3 linked regions of the Homo sapiens genome follow. The protein of the gene in region 1 purifies or fractionates together with the protein of each later gene. This does not show direct contact. Each region holds a gene or a part of one and is shown on either strand. Other genes may lie near its edges.

Region 1 (7,025 bases):
ATTTTTTGAGTAATTTATTTAAATTTGTGAATCTAGAAAATGTGTGTTATATATTTATATACAGGGAATAACAAAAGTTAAGTGTTTAATTGGAAAGAAAACTGTGACTGATAATATGTTGTAATTACCATTTTATAATATTACTTTCCATTGCAATGACTTAAAATGAAGAAATAAGAATAGGAATAATTATGCTAACAAATTCACTTTGTTTTCTGTGCCACTAAATTTCTTTAGGATCAAGAACTCTTTCATATTCAGACATTAAACAATATTCAAATAATTTTATAAAATAGACATACAAGTTTACTCATATTAAAAAAACAAGTTGATTTTCATTTCCTGTAGAAAAACCAAAACAGAGCAGATGTGCAAGCAAAGATAAATGAAAACACTGGCTGTTTCTCAATAAAGGTGATAGTCTGTTTTTCATACTAACTTATGTACGATATAATAAATAGCCACTAAATGTAGTAACAGGGGGAAACTTGGCTGGAATTGTTCCTTTTGCAAGTCGTAACCAGACTTCCTGCCCATAATTTAATTCTAATAAGGCATCCCCAGTTAAAACCCTATCACAGTGTATTTCACTGTTAATATTTTCAGACTCAAATGCAAGCTTGTCTATTCCATCAACCACTAAAAATCCAGAAATATGAGCACTAAATGACTCGATGGTGTACTTGAAAACATATACTCCAAGATACGGAATTCTAAATTTTCCAGTTCTTGGGGTATATGAAGCTCCATAATTGACATCCAAGTTATTAAACAGGATAGGACCAGGTATAGTCATTCCATACGTATGAGATGCAAAAAATGCCACCATGGGTGCATATCTGTAAGATCCTTTGGAAAAATCTGTTAGAGGAAAAAATGGCAAGAGTTAATTTTCATGTTTTTATCTTATTTTTCTTTCCTTATATCTTCGTCATTTTTATCTCAGTTACAAAAAGTCTTAGCAGAAGAGAAAGGCCATCCATCAAACTTAGCAAAGGTGCACGTGTCTCAATGCCTGTCTCTTCTCTGGGGTAAATTACTCTAAATTGCTTAGCCTCTTGTTGCCTCAGTTTCTCCATTTAGATCAGGACAGAATAAAAATAACATTTGATACCTTCCTCACAGAAATGCCTCAAAGATAATTTGCATGTTGCTTTGATCTCCCCAGAGATAAAGGAATTCAAAGCACTCTATGATTATTATGGTTATGTCAGAATGTTTTAAAGCCCCTTGCAGGAATTGAAGCTGACATGATGTAGAAACAATTTTTCCGGCACCTTGTCAAGCAGTTTCTAAAGGCTAAAACGAAAACCATATAAAGTCATATTCACTGCAGCAAAGTAGACAAAGGCAATTTTCTGTGTAATTAATGCCAATTGTACTTACAAAGGCTGAGATCTAAAAACAGACTAAAAAATTTACATTTCACTATGCAGGATATTATTAAGAAAAAGCTGATTTGAAATAGGTTTTTTTGCAGTCATTAAATAACACATTTTTATGCTGCACATACATTTCTGTATAAAAATCAGAAATGGTGCACTCCTGAAGTAAATCCAAAGCACCAATACTTATGAATTTAAATAAATAAAAAAGCCATCTTGTTTTACTTAATACATTTGAGCATGTTCTAACAGTTCTCACACAGTCAAAATGGTGCCATTAGTTTAACCTTCACAGAAAACGTGTTACTAAGCATGTATTAAAGCCTCATTTAAATGACCATACCAGACATAAATCAAAGGCGTATTTCTTTAACTGCTTGTTTGAGGAGAAAGTGTTTCTATCAGTCAGATATATACATCCATATATTTTTAGGATGCACAAGAGAAAAAAAGTTTGTGAGGGGGTAGAATTTTCCATAAACTGCCTCTATATAGCAATATTGAAAATTTCAACAGGTGCATGTGAATAAGAATTTGCCTAACAAAAGGACATTTCCACTTGTAAATCAGGTACATTCTTCAGTAAGTTTCGAAAAAGTAAAAGGAATTGTCAAGTGGATCCAGATTAAGCAGGCTTAAATATTCATTAATAAATATTTTCAAAACGTGTTTCTATTTATGACAATGAGCAAATCCAAAGATGCGTATACTTTTTTTTTACCTGGAGCTAAAGCATTTTCTTCCACAAGCTTGATAGTGCAGTTGTCACCAGTAAAAGGATGTCTGCAGGCACAGGTAAAGCTAGTTCTTCCATTTATGCACGTGCCCCCATTTTGGCACGGATGCCGACTACAGCTTGAATACTCCTCTGTTACGGAAAAAGAATCAAGGTAAAAGAGAATAAAGTGACCTATTTTCCTGTTGATCTCAAATCGTAGTTTGCAGCAGAATAGGAAAAAGACTGAATTTTAAGTAAGAAAAATGGGCTCCACGGCCCAGGATGCCTGTCGATCTGGGCACAGGACGTCATGCAAATCCCTTAGCTCTGATCTCTCTATCTCCTTCAGTAAAGTGGGCAAAATTCTGTGATCCATTACATTTATTGGTGTGAAATGTTAACATTCTTGTCAACTGCAGAACAGAATAGAATTATCTCAATACAAATCATGTATATTTGAAACTGGTACTTGATAAAGGTAATGCTTTAAATCACTGAGAAGAAAAATATCTGTTCGATACATGGTGCTAAGGTGGTATTGAATATATATTAGAAACATAAATTCCACATATACAAAAATACTAAATATAAAAAAACCAATATGATTGCATTACAACAAAAAAGGAGAATATCTTTCTAGAGCTTTAAAATTTTAAAAAATTCTTTCAAAGCAAAACAAAGCAAAGCAAAGGAAAACAAAACTCAGAAACCATAAGAGAAAAACATTATCATGTTTGACCTAAGAATTAAAACTCATTTGCATTGAAAACCACCATTTTCAAAGTTTAATGATAAGTTACAAAATTAGAAGACATGGCAATCTAATGACTAATATTCATAACATATGAAAAACTCTGAAAAGAAAAAAAAAATTCTCCCTTAAAAATGGAAAATGAGGCCGGGTATGGTGGCTCACACCTGTAACCCCACCACTTCAGGAGGCCAAGGCAAGAGGATGGCTTGAGTCCAGGTGTTTGAGACCAGCCTGAGCAGCATAGTGATACCCCATCTCTAATTTTTTAAATAAAAAATAAATAAAAATAAGAAAATGGTCTTCACTTACAGATCAGAAAAAAATAAGTTAAAAAACGGAGAATGTATCAGTAGGCAAATCATTGAACAAAACCCACAAAAGGTCACTAAAAGTTTTAAAGCATATGCAACCTCATTACTAATTCAGAAATAATAAATTTAGCAATAATAACATTATTTAAATATAAGGTGGCAACATTTAAAAAGATACGTAGAAAATATCCAGTCATGTCAATATAAGGGAAAATGGGCCTTTTCATGCAATGCTGGCTGGAGTGTAAACTGCTATAGCTGTTAATAGGACAATGTGACGATATTTATCAGTATTAAAAAGGTTAATTTACTTTGAGCCAAACATTTCTTCTGGCAGTATATATATACTCCAGACATACTTGTCCATGTGCACAAAGACAATTCTTCAATTCAAAATGATATCACTTGCATTCTTGAAAAATTTAAAGACTCCTAAATGATCACTGATGCAGGACTTGTTAAATAAATTGTAACATATTCCCACTGAGGAATATTAGACAGCAATTAAAGAATGAGGTAGATTCTCCAACAGGTTTGGTTTACTGAAGACAGAAAGTTACAGCTCACACATTACATATAGAATAATTTCATTTGTTGTGAAAGCTTCAAATTATGAATATGGTTATAAACATAATGCATAATTATGTAAATGCAGAAACAAGGTCAGAAGAATTCAGCGCTTATACTACTTGCCACAGTTACTCTGGTGCCACCTTATGGTAATGATGTAGTTTACCATCCACTCATTTCAAACCAGGTGATTGTTGATGATTTTTAATTTGGAAGTTATTTGTTTTGTGTAATATTTTTCTCATGAAGTGAGACCTATAAATTTTTATATACATTTTGTTTCATAGCCATACAATTGAAATTCACATAAAATGTGAACAAACGGCATGCCTGTATTATTAAAATTTTTTGCAAAGCAAATATATTAATATTGTACTTATGTAATGAGAAATTAATCAGAATTATCTTGATATATTCTCTGCAATATTCTATAAACTATTTTCCTTATTAAGAAAAGTATTAAAATATTACATGTGTGTAATACCTTTTAACAAATATTTCGACTGGCTAACATTCCTTTAACCTCACTTTGCTGCATGTGAATAGATTATCAAATCCCTTTTTTGCTGCTCATTAACATTCCAGAACTTTGCCCATTATTTTCCTGCATTAAAAACATCAATGACTTTTCATTACTTATAGTAATGTGAATATTCTGTATCAAAGCATTTGCTTCATTTATTTTTACATTCTCTGAATTTAGCACAGTGATCAACTCACAGGAGAAGTTTCAATTAATGGGTTTCACTAGGAATGTATCAATTGTGCAGTAGAGTTGGGGGGAACACTAACTTATTTATGTAATTTGATCAGCTCTATAATTTTAATTTTCCCAAATATAAAAAATCACAGTCACCTGTAACCTTGGCCCTGTTCATGAATCAGGGATCAAAGCTGTGCTATAAGGAGAACTTAAGAAACTGTGGAAAAAATTAGATTTATCTGCATTGCTGTTGGCTCTACTCTGAATCTTCAGGATCAAGGATTCTGCCTGCTATTTAATGTCCAGGAGCAGCATTCCATTTTTTGCTTCTTTATGTTCCATTACTTTAGGAATTGGGTCTTGCCTTGCTGTAGTTCTTTGAGTCATTTCAGAGGGTGCTATTTTACCCCATTTTCCAATTTCTTTTTAGGGTCATTCATCTGGAGTAGGGCTACACTTAAGTTTAATTGAAGGTCTGCATCTACTACTACTGTTACAGTAGCCCAAACTTCTTGAGACTGCACACAGCTTGCCTTCTAGGACATCTTTCATGGTGCCTACTGATTATCTGCTCAGGATGCCTCAGCCACTTGTCTGTACCTGCTTCGACTGCTTCTGTTTTAAGTTCCTTTCTGTGCCTCTTTTTGCTATTTTAGGTATGTCTGGACTTTCCAAGTCTCTGCCAAAATAATCACATTTTAAAATATAAAATCATGTCCATGGCACCCAGAACTGGACATATTGTACCAGTTGAGCCCAAGCATAGTAGGTTATGGTAGCAATTGCTAGTTACCCCTGCTGAAATGAACTTACACTTCTGTCAAGATAACACAAGCATTAAGTATTCATTGTCTATTTCTGCATCTGTATCACACTGTCTCATAACAGGTCTCCTGTGCTCTGATGTATTGAAGCTTTCTAAAATCTCATGTCTATTTAATTCATTTAAACATGAATTTACAATTATTATTGATAATAAAATTTATCTTATTAGACATGAGTTACCATCTCTGTCCATAGAAAGCATTCAGTTTTATTCTGTATAGATGTTTCAGCCACCCTCCCCTATCTTTGTTATCATTTCCAAATTTATGTCTCATGCGTTCCTCCAAGTTATCGATAAAAATACGTACTAGAAAAAAAATACCTGATGGATTAGTGACAAGTACAGAGCCTTATAACAGACAACTAAAGATTGAATGGCACTGATTTTCCAACTGAAGCTATTTGTACTTTGTTATACAATGAGTTAGAAATCAACTTTTGGCTGGGTACGGTGGCTCACGCCTGTAATCCTAGCACTTTGGGAGGCTGAGGCGGGCAGATCACCTGAGGTCGGGAGTTTGAGATCAGCCTGGCTAACATGGTGAAACCCCATCTCTACTAAAAATACAAAATTAGCTGGGTGTGGTGGTGTGTGCCTGTAATCCCAGCTACTCCGGAGGCTGAGGCAGGAGAATTACTTGAACCCAGGAGGCGGAGGTTGCAGTGAGCCAGGGTCACGCCACTGCACTCCAGCCTGGGCGACGGAGTGAGACTCTATCTCAAAAAACAAAACAAAACAAAATCAACTTTTGTACACCACCTGACTTATTTTTCTCCTTTATTATTAAAACGCTTAAAAAATGGTTAGGTACCTTTATAAGTACCTGCTCATATTTGTGCTTAATAGGCTACTTGTTCTTGAATTACCAACAAAAATCAAACTCCAATAAAGCATCATTTTCTTTATGACATCTTTCCTCATCCCTAGGAGTAAATCACTTTAGTTCTCTCCATTGCTGCCTGATGCTCCAAAGTTGTCTTCTTGAATTCATCACACTCAACTGTAATTGCTTTGGTGTCTTTCTTACTTCCAACAAGAGTATGAGCTTTCATGAGGTCAGGGATCATGTTCTCTATGACTTAAACTTCATATCAACCTTATTAGCACAGTGCCTGACATATAGAAAATACTAAAGTAGTTTTAAAAATGAATAGACAAATTAATAAAAGATGGAATAGAATACCACATTCTTATCAAATTTCAACCTTCTTCCCAGTTTCTCAAATGTCACAGAGTTTGACACTATGCTATCATTGTCATGTTATCCTAGAGACATGAATCTATTTATTTATTTATTTGTTTTATTTTTGAGATGGAGTCTCGCTCTGTCGTCCAGGCTGGAGTGCAGTAGCATGATCTTGGCTCACTGCAACCTCTGCCTCCTGGACTTAAGCTATTCTCCTGCCTCAGCCTCCCAAGTAGCTGGGACTACAGGTGTGCACCACCATGCCAGGCTATTTTTTGTATTTTTAGCAGAGACGGGGTTTCACCGTGTGGGCCAAGCTGGTCTCAAACTTCCAACCTCAGGTGATCCACCTGCCTTGGCCTCCCAAAATGTGGGATTACAGTGTGAGCCACTGTGCCCAGAAGTGAATCCATTTAAGCGAACTTTCCACAACTTCTCCCCTTACCTTGAGCTTCAATAACCTCTTAAACTCCTTCCTGTCCATTTTTTTTAATGGAGATCAGTGCAATTAGTTCAATAGTTCTTCCAAGTCAACATTCTACCACTGTGCAAGTAGCATAACTGATATTTCA
Region 2 (7,835 bases), on another chromosome or scaffold:
GTAGTGGTGCGATCTTGGCTCACTGCAAGCTCCGCCTCCCGGGTTCACGTCATTCTCCTGCCTCAGTCTCCTGAGTAGCTGGGACTACGGGCACCCGCCACCAGGCCGGGCTAATTTTTTTGTATTTTTAGTAGAGACGGGGTTTCACTGTGTTAGCCAGGATTGTCTTGATCTCCTGACCTCGTGATCCGCCTGTCTCGGCCTCCCAAACTGCTGGGATTACAGGTGATCCACCACGCCTGGCCAAAGGCTAATAATTTATAATGACAATACTCACGGTTTGCAGATGTAGATTCTACCATATAAAATGTGAATTCTGAAAAAAGTATCTGTTATCTCTGAAAGTGTTCCACTTTCCAAAAGCAGAGCACGAATGACAAGATAAGGAGCTCCATTTACCACTGCTACATATGGATAGGATTCCTCAGAGTCCAGGCCTCCGTTCTCCTTGACATACTGGAAGGCCCTAGCCATGAAGCCACCATTGCAGCCCTGATTGCCTTGAGGACGCGAACAGTCCACCAGATTCTGCTCGCTCAGTGAGACAAGTTTCCCAGTTTTCCGGAACATCTGTCCTTCAAGAGCACCAGTCGCACTAAAAGCCCAACAAGAACCACACTGTTTCTAAAAAGGGAGAAAAAAAAAGCTGTAAATTTACAAGACCAATACAAATACAGTACCCCATAATTGAATTACCTTAATATTCTTTAAAAAAAAAAAAAACCCATCGCCACACTTTGGGAGGCCGAGGCGGGCAGATCACTTGAGGAGAGGAGTTTGAAATCCGCCTGGCCAACATGGTGAAACCCTGTCGCTACTAAAAATACACAAAAATTAGCTGGGCATGGTGGTGAGCACTTGCAATCCCAGCTACTCGGGAGGTGGAGGCAGGAGAATCTCTTGAACCCAGGAGGCAGAGGTTGCAGTGAGACGAGATCACGCCATTGCAATCCAGCCTGGGCAACAAGAGCTAAACTCCGTCTCAAACAAGCAAACAAAAAAAACACCAAAAACCAAAAATACAAAAAACCCATCACCATATGTTGTGCCACCATCTACCACAGCAATGACACCAATTCCTTCTTGGCTTTCCTGTGGAGACAGGGTCTGAATCTGACGCTGTCTCACCTGATTCTTCACTGGCGTCACGTAGCCTTTCTTTCTCCAATCCACAGATTTGGGAAGATCAAGAAACAGAGGCTCACGGAACACTTTCCCCTTCCTGAATTTCTGGTTTCGAAAGCAACCCATCATCTGCCTGAATTCTTCATTGGTCTTCAAGGAGAAGTAAATAAAATGTTAAAAGCAAGACTATTTTGGTGAAGAACTGAGAAGCAGCACAGAGTTCAGCAATCCTTGCCACACTCACCATGTCACCAAAAGCATTCATGGCCATTGTGAAGCCATGTTTCCCTTGGCTGTATTCCCCATTGTGCAGTTCAATCATTTTCATATTCTTTTCCCACACTGCTCTCCTCCATCCTTCTTCATTCTAGAGGCAAACATATAGCTGGTGGACTTTATGTCTACTTACCCAACCCATGTTCACCAAGCCGATTTGCGGGCAGAAATGGAAGAGAAACCATGGCCAGGGATGGGTTGATACTTCTCTGGGAGCTGTTCTCCAAGCCAAGACACAATGGAGATATATGCCCATATTGCACCTATAATGGGTGCTGTTAGGTTATTGCCTGGTAAGGTCTGGTGTCTAGAAGCTACTCTCTGGCTATCAACTCCCAACAGCGAGGACCATTCTCTCCAGAGTCCCTCTGGACAGTTTCAGATGTTACCAACCGCGCCATATAATCTTCTGTGTGTTGCCTTCCACTGGTACCACTTTGTATCCAAATTTTGGTCAAATTTTGGAACAGCGGAGGCTATTCCCAAGCAAAAGGCAGCCAGGACGAGCGAAAGATTCATGTTTCAAAACCTAGAAAGAGAAAAGAAATGAGTATCTGATTAGACCAATCCTAAAAAGCCATCTTACAGCCCCCGTGGAATAGAAATATTTCAATTATTCTCCCTAGCATTTCCCCAAGGACTGTGGAAGAGGCTGAAACAGGCCAAGTGGAGGTATTTGATGGGCCCACCAAAATTAAAAGCAGCCTGCAGAGTTGGAGGCGTTGAAACAGCATATGCGATAATTTAGGGTATGAGAAGGGTGTGAAAGATACCTGACGGGTGAGAAGCTTAAGGCAACAACTAGAAAACTAGGAAAGAGTTGGTCCAGGTTTTGCACCAATTGTACTGAGGTCATCCAGGCAAAACCTCACTAATGAAGACGTACCATCCCAAGTAGATGCAAGCGGATCCCCAAGGAACACCACCTCACACCTTCTTGGCTGATACACAGCAGGAGATGAGCTATGTCTTCCAACCTCTCCTTTTGGAATAAAACCTTTCGGGAATCCCTTTCCAGGAGACACTGGGAAGGAGAGCACCCACTATTCCCGCCGTCCCACACTTGGGTCTGTGCTACTCGCTCCCCTAAACCGGGGCAGGGTCACAAGGCCGCGCCGCTGGAAGCCAGGGGCCCCAGGGCCAGGGCCCGGACCGAGGCAGGCAGCTCCCGGAGCTCCGGGCGGGCCAGGACCGGGGCCGCACCGCCTGCTCTCGCCCTCTGCACGCGCCGCCGCGCCCCGAGAATGTTTGCGGCGGTGCAGGGAGCGGGGGCTCCGCGGCCAGGCTGGGGGCATGAAGCCGCCCGGTCCGGTCCGGCTTCAGCCCACAGGATGACTGACCTGCCCCGCCCGGGCCCTCCCAGTGGTGCCGGCGCCTCCCTGGGGTCTCCAACCGCCCTCCCCCGTTCCCCACCTCGAGGCTGGCAGAGCTCCGGGCAGAAGCTCTCACTCCCAGAAGCGCCCGCCTCCTCTCAGTGTCCCTAAAGGGGGGTTCCCTCCTCCAGTCCCCCTTCGCCCTGTCCCTCGGTCTGGTCGGGGGCGCTCACCAGCAGCCGTCGCAGCTGCGCAGGCACCCTCAGCAAACAAGCCTCTGAGATTACAGACGTCCGCGGTCTGGTGCAGGTTCGCCCGCCTCGGGATTTAAGTTTCCAGGCGGCCTTCCCCGCCCCCACCGCCTTCCCGCGCTGCGATTGGCTGTGCCGGCCACTGGGCGGGGCCCCGGGCGCTTAGAGCCCGCGCGTGACGCAGCCCAGTCCCAACCCGTCTCAGGTCTGGGCGCGCCTACCTCAATACACCCTGGCTGCGGGAAGCTGGGCCGGGCGCCCGGGGGCTGCGCGGAGGAGGGGGAGGCGCCTCCCTCAAGGGCTCAGATCTACTGACTATCCCGACTTACTGCGCTGAGCGGGTGGTTTACAGCGAGCTCTGTGTGGTATTTCAGTCCCTACTTTAACTTAGTCCTAGAGTTTTTGGTGAAAATCTGCAGGGCCGGGAGCCAGGGTACTCTCGTTCAGTGGCTCCTGTTTAGTCCACGGCAAAGGTGGGACGGAGTGGAAGAACGCACAGCCCCCAGCAGAAGCATTACCTTCCACTTAAGGGTGGGTGCATCAGGGCTTTAGAAGAATCTGGTAAGGAAAGGCACTCCCAAAACACGGGATGGATGGTCGAGACCGGACACCAGGAGGGACGGGACTAGCTGATAGGGTGTCCAGAGACCGCGGAGCGTTTTGTGGTGCGTCCTTCCCAGTCTGTTGCATTCAGGAATTCTTCCTTCTCCCATGTCTTTCAATACCAAAAAAAAAAAAAAAAAAAAAAAAAAGAGTTACAGAAATATTTGGTTAATAAAAAAGAGAAAAGCGTTGAGAATGGTGAAATAAATTGCTTTAAAAATTTTTCTTTTGTAGAAATGGAGTTTGGCTAAGTTTCCTTAGGCTGCTCTTGAATTCCTGGCCTCAAGCGATCCTCCCCTCTCAGCCTCCCAAAAGTGGTGGGATTACAGGCGTGAGCCACTACGCCCAGTCTGAGAGTGGTGGAAATTGCTTTTACTTACCTACTCTCTGCTTATGGGTTACAACGTCTCTTCCTCAGTATTCAAAGTGTGCTTCTTTTGAGATTTAATAAATTTACTTTAAAAATGTTTAATACCGGCCGGGCGCGGTGGCTTACACCTGTAATCCCAGCACTTTGGGAGGCCGAGGCGGGCGGATCACGAGGTCATGATATCGAGACCATCCTGGCCAACATGGTGAAACCCTGTCTCTACTAAAAATGCAAAAATTAGCTGGGCGTGGTGGCGGGCGCCTGTAGTCCCAGCTACTCAGGAGGCTGAGGCAGGAGAATTGCTTGAACCCGAGAGGCGGAGGTTGCAGTGAGCTGAGATCGTGCCACTGCACTCCAGACTGGTGACAGAGCGAAACTCTGTCTCAAAAAATAAAAATAAAAATAAAAATATATAATATCAGGGTTGAGGTGATGCAGTTTGAGGAACTGCTCTTTATGGAGAAATATATGTAGCTAAAGATTTAAGGAAATCATTAATAATTCAGAAACGTTTCTAATTCTTTTTAAAGTTATATAAAAAAATCCATTATAAAAAATATGTTTTAGAAAATAAACGTCCCTTGTGCCCTCTCCATAACCCTTTTCTAGGCATATCTTTTTTTGTTTTTACAAAAATGAAGTTATAATGCATATTGATTAATAAACTCTTAAAGATTAAATTGAATAATATCCACAGTTTTTACTTGTTAATTTGAAAATTTGTGAAATCAAGTTTAGCCTAAAGCTGCCTCCCCATGTGATTTAAGTTTGGCCTAAAGGTTTCTCTGTACATAGCGAATTGTAATCTAAATGGAGGTGTAAACAGACTGTAGCCTGCTCTTGTGCCTATCCCCGAATTTCTGTAAATCAAAGAGGTTCAGTTGTTCAAACCATGTTCAAATAAGGCAAACATGGAGCTGTATCCAATCCTGCAGTTTCTGTGCCTCACTTGCCCTTTTCTGTCTATAAATCTTCCCCCATGTGGCTGCACTGGAGTCTCTCTGAGCCTACTCTGGCACTGGAGGCTGCCAGATTCACGAATTGTTTTTTGCTCAATTAAATTCTCTTAAATTTAATTTGGCTATGGATTTTCTTTTAACAAATTAAAAACAATTAAACTGACAACTTTTCAGAAGCACCATCAGGCAAATACATCTTTTTAAAAATCAATTTATTAATAATTATATGTCCTTCCTTTAAATAAATAGCAGCTTTTCCCTCTCAAATACAACTAGGGGCCAAAGCTGTCAGGTGGTTATATAAAAAATACAAAAGTATATTGTATTGCAGGCCAAGGTAGGTGGATCTCCTGAGCCTGGGAGTTTGAGACCAGCCTGGGCAACATGGCGAAATCACACCTCTACCAAAAATACAAAACAAACAAACAAAAATTAGCCAGGCATGGTGATGCATGCCTGTAGTCCCAACTACTTGGGAGACTGAGGTTGTAGTGAGCGGAGCAGAGCATGCGCCACTGCACTCCAACCTGGGTGACAGAGCGAGATGCCGTCCCAAAAAAAAAAAAAAAAAAAAAAAAGCATCTTGTACTTGTACTGCAAATTTGCCGTCTCAAAAAAAAAAAAAAAGCATCTTGTACTGCAAATAGCTGTTTTTTTTCTTTTTTAAAAATTAATCATTGTGTTGAACACAATCATCATTCACATGTGGAAATAAATGAAGACCACCACCTAAGAACAAACAGAGGCCATATATTCAGAACTTGCTATAACAAAGGAGATAATTCAAAGACGAGGGAGAAGAAAAGCTTTAGGGGAAAAAGGGGGCAACTTCAGCTATGTCCTCTTTGCAGAGTGTCGTCATGGAGAAGCTGAAGGAGGGATAACTAGAGATGGAGCGTCTTATGTGATTTGTTTGTGGAGTATATTTGGTTTTTCTGGTTTGTCCTGGGTTGGAAGCAGAGGCAAAAATGAGGAAGCTGTCAGCCACTGAGTAAGTCCTGACTGTTCTGAGTTGGTCTCTGCAGATATTATGCTTCATTTCTTCTGTGGGTCAGAGTTCTATTGCCATATACTATGGCCATTGTCTATTTGTTTACTCAGTCTATCACAAGAAAGCTAAGTTATTCTAACACGTGGGTTTTACAGTTGCCCTTGGGCCACAGCTCCCTAAGATTGTAGGGTGGAGAAACCTGCCAGGCCATTAAGATCTGTGCCTTAAGCAATAGCCTGACAGCAGATGAGTGGCAGGTGCTGCCCTGAAGAATGGCATCCCCTTTGTTTTTTGGAATGTGAGACAAAAGTAGTGGAGAAAACATAGACCCTTTTCAAACCAAGTGTGCCCCAAATCTAAAATTATACCAGAAATATGTAAATGCAGAAGAAATATGGGAGAAAGCCAATAAGCAAGAGGGTGGAAGACGTTATTGCTCCAACTTAGGACACCTATTTATATCTATTTATACACATCTGTAAAAAAATGCATTACAGAAATGTGGTATTACTAGCCAGGACAGTTGTATTTAAATATTTGTTTCTTTCCCTACTCTTCTATTCCTATTTCTTTGCAAAATAATTTTGATGAGTGATAATTTTTAGAACAGTCACATGTTAGTGAAGCAACCAAGCCTTGGTTATGCCTTTAATAAAATGGAGTTGGCAGAACTTCCTGATTCCTATTTAAAACGCAGTGCCTGTGAAAGTATATTCTCACGTGCATCTGTGTAGCTTTCTTTTACTCACTATTAAAAGAGGATATAGGCCAGCCATGGTGGCTCACGTCTGTAATCCTAGCACTTTGGGAGGCTGAAGTGGGTGGATTACTTGAGGTCAGGAGTTTGAAACAAGCCTGGCCAACATAGTGAAACCCTGTCTCTACTAAAAATACAAAAAAAGTTAGGCAGGTGTGGTGGTGCATGCCTGTAGTCCCAGCTACTTGGGAGGCTGAGGCAGGAGAATCGCGGAGAGGTGGAGGTTGCAGTGAGCCGAGATTGCGCCATTGCACTCTAGCCTGGGCAACAGAGTGAGACTCTGTCTCAAAAATAAATAAATAAATAAAAGAGGATGTGATTCTTTACCCAGTCTCCGGAAATTTTAAACCATAGGGGAACTGGCAAACTTAGTGTGGTGGCATTCAAGACCCTGACATCACTTAACACCTCTCCCCAGTATAATAACCCCCTCCGATTTGTTTAAATTCACTGAGCCAAGAATTACTCTTAAGAAGCATTATCCAGCAAACTGTCCACTTGCAAAATGGTTTGTCACCATTGATAATCGTATAGCAAACAGCCTGTTTATGATTTGAGGTTCATATAAAACCACTTATGAAATAACTACTTTTCTTGGTTACTGTAACTGTGCTTTTCCTGTAGAGTTAAACTATCAGCCAATTCATCAAGCACGTAAATCAATCAATGAGAATTCAGCTCTTACTCGGTACCAGTTCTCCTCTTCTGGTGTAGCATGAGCATTCACTTCCACATTCTTAGCTTTCCTAACAGCTTTCTGAGGTTCAGCCTTTCCATATTTAAATATGTGGTTCACTACAGTAATTTCAGTTCTATAGCAAATTGAACAGGACAGATATATTTAAATGGAACTATGGTGAAGCATCTTTGTATAGCAAGTAACAAGGAAACCAATTCACAAGAGAAATGGTGGAATTTCTCCCCTCCTCTAAAACAGTAATCCACAAACTCTCAGCCAAATCTGAAAAATTCTTCAAACCTCAAAAAGTCCTTTCAAGAAACAAGGTGTATTCGTTTCCTGTGTCTGCTATAACAAATCCCCACAAACTTGGTGGCTTGAAACAGGAGTCCTTTATTCCCTCACAGTTATGGAGGCCAGAAGTCCTAAACAGGCATCATTGGGCTAAAGACCAGGTGTGATAGGGCTCCCTCCCTTCCTCCCTCCTGAGGTTCTAGGGGAGAATCTGTGC
Region 3 (7,025 bases), on another chromosome or scaffold:
CCACTCAAAGAATCAAGATTTGGGAGGTATAGGAGAATGAGTAGAATTTTTAGTTCTTTTCAGTGACTTAGGCTCCTAGGAAAACCTTTGTGAAACAGAGGTTCTACTCAGGTAAACTCTCAGTGTGATCTAGACCAAGAATGGTTCTGCCAATCAGAGTGCCGACAGCATCTCTGTGAAGAAAGTGCCTGGATTATATAGACACATCACAACTCTCCAAGGAAGGGCTCTAATTTGGAATTACCTCCATCAGCCCATTTTCAATAAGACCTACCTGAGATTCAAACTAGGCCTGACTCTTCCAAAGTCCTCAGGTCACTCAAACTTCAATGTCATGACAGTATCTGGCAACATCACTGCCATATATATGGTGTTCAATGAGTGTTTTTGAAATCTGAATTGGCTTCCCAACTTCCTGAAACCACAATTCTTCTTTATATTTTCTTTCATACCCTGTGTAGGTACTCAAGTCTTTTCTATGTTAGCTGCTATTTCTCAGGGGCTGTAATGTGACCTGTGGTATAAATAAATCCAGGTAATCATAAATGGTCATAATAAAATTCTACTATATATAGCAAGGATGTTTAAGAGTCTTAACTGTTCTTCTTGGACTCTTAAAGCAGTGCTTTCCAATATTTTTTACTTCAAAGCACACAAAGAAAATAATATCTGCCTGGCATTCTGAGGTAAAAGAATGAAGCAATAAATCTAAGGCTTGGCTGATCCAGGCCCCACTTGGCTGCTGAAGGGCTGGAGGTGGGAAGAGGGATCAATAAATAGGTGCACTAGAAACCTGCCGTGGCACACCTGTCAGGAGTTGCAGTACTTCCCTTTGGGTGGAGAGAAGCCACCATGATTCACAATGGAGAAAGTAGCTGAAACCTGGAATCAGTTTCCTGTTGAAGCAGATAATGGCACAGTATACCCTTGGATGGATATGGGTATTTTGCCAATGTCCAGATAGCAGTAGTCTAAAACATCTCCCAAATAAAACACAGATCTTGTATCGGCAGGACCACTCCTTGAAACAGTTCCATAAGTCATTGCGTTTTTTTCTTTCCATATGGTATAAATAGATTTGTTCAGATCCTAATAAACTACCCTAAAATGTGACATTCAATTCTGCTAACTTATTTAAAACATCTATTTTTTATACAAGAAGCATTATTTTCTTCTTATTCATTTTCTTGATACTTAGGTAATTATTAGCAGTGGGTATTATTTTTAGGACCCTTTGTTTTTTTCATGGAGAAAGTAAGGCATCACTTCAAGAAAATTTCTGCATGATTTACCAACAAGAACAAAGTGTCACAGAGATGATGGGTGGTCAGCCAGGTTCACTCACTAGCTGTGTTTCTTACAGTCACAGGTCTGCCTTGCTGCCTATGATATTCAAATTACACCTTGGAAAAATTCCAAAGGGTACATAACTCGAATTACCCTCTAAGGGTTGAAACAGAAAATATTAAATAGTGACTGAGGGTCCATTGTATCTTCTTGGTAGCTTTTGTTAGAAGAAACAGAGTATTTTTATATATAGATAATTTAGGATTATTGTCACCTGAAAGCAAAGACCAAAGTTTCCAAGACTCTCAGAAGGAGGAAGTGAGTTTAAATGTTTAGAACATGGTATTTGGTATCAGATTGTCTGAACTCAATTCAGTTTCTGATTCTTGTGGCTGTGTTACCTTAGACAAGTTACTGTGTTTTGGCTGTACTAAAATGGAGATATTTATGAGCATTATATAATACATGTAAAGCCTGAGAACAGTATTTGGCACTTGGATTCAATAAATCTTCATTGTTGTGGTTATTGTTTTTGTCATTTGTTGGTAGTAATATTATTTCTTATCTCCTCTGCAGTGCATGAAGCCATGCAGGGAATATTGGTGTGTAATTAATCACGTTACTTTTCTTTTGATAGGATGTTCCACACCCCTGGGTATGGAAAATGGAAAGATAGAAAACAAGCAAATCACAGCTTCTTCGTTTAAGAAATCTTGGTGGGGAGATTACTGGGAACCCTTCCGTGCCCGTCTGAATGCCCAGGGACGTGTGAATGCCTGGCAAGCCAAGGTCAAGTATACTCTATGCATGGTGTTCTCTTAGGGCTCCAGAAGAAAGCAAAGGCCCTCACTACCACAAACATGGAGGATCTGGGAAGCAGGAGTATTTTAATCTGTTTCTGCAGATTAAAATCCTAGGTCCAAGAGTCCAGGATGTCTGTGGACTTGATAGCTTTGACTATAACTTTGTCTCAGAGAGAAGTCATTTATCATCTCTGTGGTTTTTGGTCTAGTCTTGATTTAAACCAATAATAAGCAAATTAATTTTTCTGCAAAGGGATAGATGGTAAATATTTTAGTCTTTGTGGGCCATACATTCTCTGCCATAACTACTCAACTCTGCCATTGTAGCAGTAAAGTAGCCATAAACAATATGTAAATGAATGAGCTGGCTGTGTTCTAATAAAACTTTGTTTACAAAAAACAGGCAGCGGGCCAAATTTGGCCCATGGATCATAGTTTGCCAACTCCTCATTTAGACAGCTTACATTAGTGATAAAAAAATGATTTAGATTTGCAACATCATCTCTTATTTTTTCTTTACAATTTAGCAATATTTTTTCATTTTCCTAAATGAAATGTCATCTAAACTTTTTTGTTCTCTTCCCCGCCCTCCTTATTTTAAGAGCTTTGTGATATTCCTTGAGGCAACTAGAAGCATAGTAAAATGTTGCAAAACCAGAGTTATAAAATCAGTGATCTAAGTTAAACAAACACCTTCCAGAGAGTTATACTGTCCCTGATATTAGCCCACTGAGTAATTCAGGTGATTTAATTTGGGGGTAACTCTTAATATTTGACTCATTTTTATTAATTCTTTAAATGACCTGAGATATCAGAATGGCATGAATAACTTGATGATCCCTTCAGCCAACTAAATCCAAATTCCCTAATTTCTATCCTCATATCTCCCTCCCTTAAGATACCTACACTCCAATTTCCTGGCTTTCTATAGAATTCCAGGGCCTATCCTTAAATTAGGCCACTAGAAAGGAAAAAAGAATTGTGGTGCTGGTGGCGTAAATAGAAAAGATTGGATTCCACACAGTCTTGGGAACTGATATCTGTGTCTTGAAACTCATTCTGGCCCAATATGGAATCACAGAATGTTACAGTAGCAAGGAGCAAAGCATCTGGTCTAGATTTTTCCTTTTAATTCTAAATACACAGGAGATTAAATAATTTTAGCTTAGTTTGGTAGCAGAATCAGGACTAGAATCCCATTCTCCCAGTAAACAGGCCATGCTCCTTCCACCATTTGAAGCAGCCCAAATACCTCATTTTGCAATTTTGCAGAGGGCAAAGCTGACACCCAGAGAAGTTAAAATAATAAAAATAGTGTTATATTACATTTATATAATTTACATAGCAATATAAATAATAATTAAAGAGATGTTATCCAATTCTTTTTCAGATGACTCTTTAGACTTGTTCATGGTATAACCTTGTCACTCCATACTTCATTTTACAATCTTTTAAAAAAATTTGCACTCTCTATAATTTGCTCTTAGTCTTTGTGATATAACAAGGGCCTCAAAGATAAAATGCTAATTTTTAATGGTGTCATTTCAAAGTTAGAATTCGGGATCAGAAATATGTGTTTTACTTAACCCCCTTCCATTCACATGAAATGTCTTTATATGGTCTCTTTAGAGAGGTTGAAAATCAAAGCTGGACATATGCAGTGATGCACATAGATGCTGTTCTCTCCATAACTAAAATGTCTCTACCTCTTTTATGCCTGTGAAAACCTCTAGCTGGTTATACTCTGCATCACTGGTACAACCTTGATATGAAGACACACTAAGATACCACCCAGATGTCACTAGAGGATGTTATAGACTTAAAAGTTTTCTCATATAATCATTCTAATTCAGTTAATTTGCTTTTAAAATACATATAGCATGTGAATTTTTGTGTATACACATATATACACATACACCTATATATACACATACACTTATGTATGTGTGGGTGATGTTGAAGAAACATATCAATATTATTTCCTTTAGAATTGAATGAGGTTATGGTAGACGATAAATCTCCCAAAGGTAAAAATTTATCTTAGATGACTCTAAAACTCAGTTTAGACCTTCTGATCTTTCTCCAAACACATATCACCAACCATGTGATTAGGCATTTTGTTAGGCCAGAGACAGGACAATAACTGTACTGTGTATCAAGCTCTACTTATGGTTTTATCAGGTCTCTCAAATGTTACATTTATTTGAAATATTAGAAGAAATTGAACTATTTCTGCTCTTTGACATTAACAGGGGGAAAGAGAAGTTGTGTTTTGTAAAACAGGTGAAATAGAGAGAGAATGCTATCCAATTATTTCCCAGATAACCCTGCAGCAATATTACCAGAGTATTTAAAGAAATTTGCTTAAGAAAATAATATTCACAGATAATTTAGCAGTTTAATTATTTTTCCAAATAAAGCTCATTTATTCATTCATTTATTCAACAACTATTTATTGAACACCAACTGAGTGTCTTAACATTGTGGTGAGTACCAGGAAACAAAATGAAATAAGCCTCTACCCTTAAGCAGTAAGGAATGCTAAGAAGGAAACAATTATAGTACAATGTGTGAAATACTTCAATAAAAATTTACACACATATTGTGGCAATGAAGAAGAAAGAGGGAAAGCTTCTAGGAGACTGTGAATCCTAAGGGATAAGATAGAACAAAATCCTTTTGAGCTCTGTGCTTTTTTGCATAACTTGGTCTAAAAAAAAAGCAAAGGTTTTAACATCTTCCTTATCTATGTGTTTTTGTCATTTTCATAGGCAAACAACAATAAGCAGTGGCTAGAAATTGATCTACTCAAGATCAAGAAGATAACGGCAATTATAACACAGGGCTGCAAGTCTCTGTCCTCTGAAATGTATGTAAAGAGCTATACCATCCACTACAGTGAGCAGGGAGTGGAATGGAAACCATACAGGCTGAAATCCTCCATGGTGGACAAGGTAGAGTGGCATCTGGGCAAAGAGAAAGCAATCTGAAGACTGTGCTATAATGAGAATAACAGTATTTTGCATTTGACAAATATGCAGTGACATGTACCACCTCTTTAAGTCTTCTAAATCTTAGTTCTTAAGGTGCCTGGTCTCAGACAAACTCCTGGTTGTCTGTTTTGGTTTGTTTTATTTCTCACTACACCAGGTTGCCCTCATAGGAGGATAAATATCATTGTCATAAAAAAAAAGAGTGATTTTATTTCTGGTGTGTGTAAACCTTGGGGAACTTGCTGATGATGGAAGGGGGAAAGTTATACACTTTAGTTGAGGATATAAGGTACATGCCAACAAGAATAAATAAATTAAAATGCATGGTCACATTTTAAATGTTAGCAATAGTCAAACATTTATTGGTGGCCACTTCCTGGCACTTACTATGCACTTACGTTGACATACATTTTTAAATATTTACAATGACTTCTGTGAGGTAAAATGTTATTATCCTTATTTTGCCAATGAGGAAATGAAGAATCAGAGAATAAGTAACTTGTTCAGTCATACAGCTAATACAGACGGGCTGAAGGCAGAAATGGTTTTGCAGCTGCTCCACAGCACCATGTGAGACTTGTTTATTTTTCACTAATTTAAGTCAGATCACTGGTGAGATGAAATCTATCTGGCATGTGATTTCATAACTGATAGAGGATCATCTCTGTGAGAGTGTTCTATGTGTTCTTTGATATGCTCATTTTGAGCTAATAGGATAAAAAATTTTCTGGGTTGGGCATGATGGCTCATGTCTGCAATGCCAGCACTTTGGAAGGCTGAGGCAAGAGGATTACTTGAGAGGAGTTTAAGGCTGCAGTGAGCCATGACTGTGCCACTGGACTCAAGCCTGGGCAACAGAATAAGACCCTGTCTAAAAAAAAACAAAAACAAAAAACCTTAGCCATTTATGTTGTCATTAAAGATTTTCTCTTATTTGGCTTTCAGATTTTTGAAGGAAATACTAATACCAAAGGACATGTGAAGAACTTTTTCAACCCCCCAATCATTTCCAGGTTTATCCGTGTCATTCCTAAAACATGGAATCAAAGTATTGCACTTCGCCTGGAACTCTTTGGCTGTGATATTTACTAGAATTGAACATTCAAAAACCCCTGGAAGAGACTCTTTAAGACCTCAAACCATTTAGAATGGGCAATGTATTTTACGCTGTGTTAAATGTTAACAGTTTTCCACTATTTCTCTTTCTTTTCTATTAGTGAATAAAATTTTATACAAGAAGCTTTTATAATGTAACTCCTTGCTACCAGTAAGTAAGATAATGGCTATTACTTCTGCATTAATTTGAATACAGGTAGGAAAATATCAAGAACCAACAAGAAAAGGGCTTATCTTTCTTAATGATTGAAAATGCTATGAAGTAATATTTATGTAGTTAAAATGCTTCATTATAACTCTTTTAAATCCTTTACACACTAGTAAAACAGATATTACTTTAAATAATAATTGATAGACCTGGATAACTTTCACAAACACATGATTTTTTAATGGTTTTTCTTGAGTGAAGAGAAAAACAATATTATCAAATGAAATAAGTACTTAAAATATCCTGTCTTTCCCATATAACAATGATTTTTCTGACTTTCCATGAGTAAAAAAACAGCCAAGCATCTTTCCAGTAGCCCCATTGAAATTGTGAATCCGTCCTGGTCTCCCTAAGGACTGCACACATTGATATTCAAGGTTGGTGGTCATTAGATATGGAACAGAACTGAAATAACCATGGTAGAACTGAATGTGTAATGTTGGCTTTATTCTAGCTGGTACTACATGGCACACAGTTTCAAAACATAATTTCACCTACTGGAAAGCTCAGACCTGTAAAACAGAGCATGGGAACTGCTGGTCTAAATGCAGTTGTTCCTGCTCAAAGAGACCTCTGGCCAAACTGGCAAGCAGTTAAAGTTTTCTTTCAGGGCCTTCC

Evidence for each region. The genes of interacting proteins can lie anywhere in the genome.
Region 2: the proteins of MMRN1 (region 1) and CTSV purify together in Homo sapiens (affinity purification with mass spectrometry; 3 studies listed by BioGRID and IntAct, with this or other methods). This does not show direct contact.
Region 3: the proteins of MMRN1 (region 1) and F5 purify together in Homo sapiens (affinity purification with mass spectrometry; 3 studies listed by BioGRID and IntAct, with this or other methods). This does not show direct contact.

Annotation. Positions count from the first base shown.
Region 1 is NC_000004.12:89,946,833-89,953,857, reverse strand, and holds part of MMRN1 (multimerin-1 isoform 1 precursor), read right to left. Parts: intron 2,254-7,025; coding exon 2,107-2,253; intron 862-2,106; coding exon 440-861; 3' UTR 1-439. UniProt on the Homo sapiens protein: Carrier protein for platelet (but not plasma) factor V/Va. Plays a role in the storage and stabilization of factor V in platelets. Upon release following platelet activation, may limit platelet and plasma factor Va-dependent thrombin generation.
Region 2 is NC_000009.12:97,036,124-97,043,958, forward strand, and holds the start of CTSV (cathepsin L2 preproprotein), read right to left. Parts: upstream 3,020-7,835; 5' UTR 2,948-3,019; intron 1,931-2,947; 5' UTR 1,921-1,930; coding exon 1,795-1,920; intron 1,493-1,794; coding exon 1,370-1,492; intron 1,276-1,369; coding exon 1,129-1,275; intron 625-1,128; coding exon 400-624; intron 1-399. UniProt on the Homo sapiens protein: Cysteine protease. May have an important role in corneal physiology.
Region 3 is NC_000001.11:169,513,463-169,520,487, reverse strand, and holds part of F5 (coagulation factor V preproprotein), read left to right. Parts: intron 1-1,924; coding exon 1,925-2,076; intron 2,077-4,861; coding exon 4,862-5,044; intron 5,045-6,028; coding exon 6,029-6,175; 3' UTR 6,176-7,025. UniProt on the Homo sapiens protein: Central regulator of hemostasis. It serves as a critical cofactor for the prothrombinase activity of factor Xa that results in the activation of prothrombin to thrombin.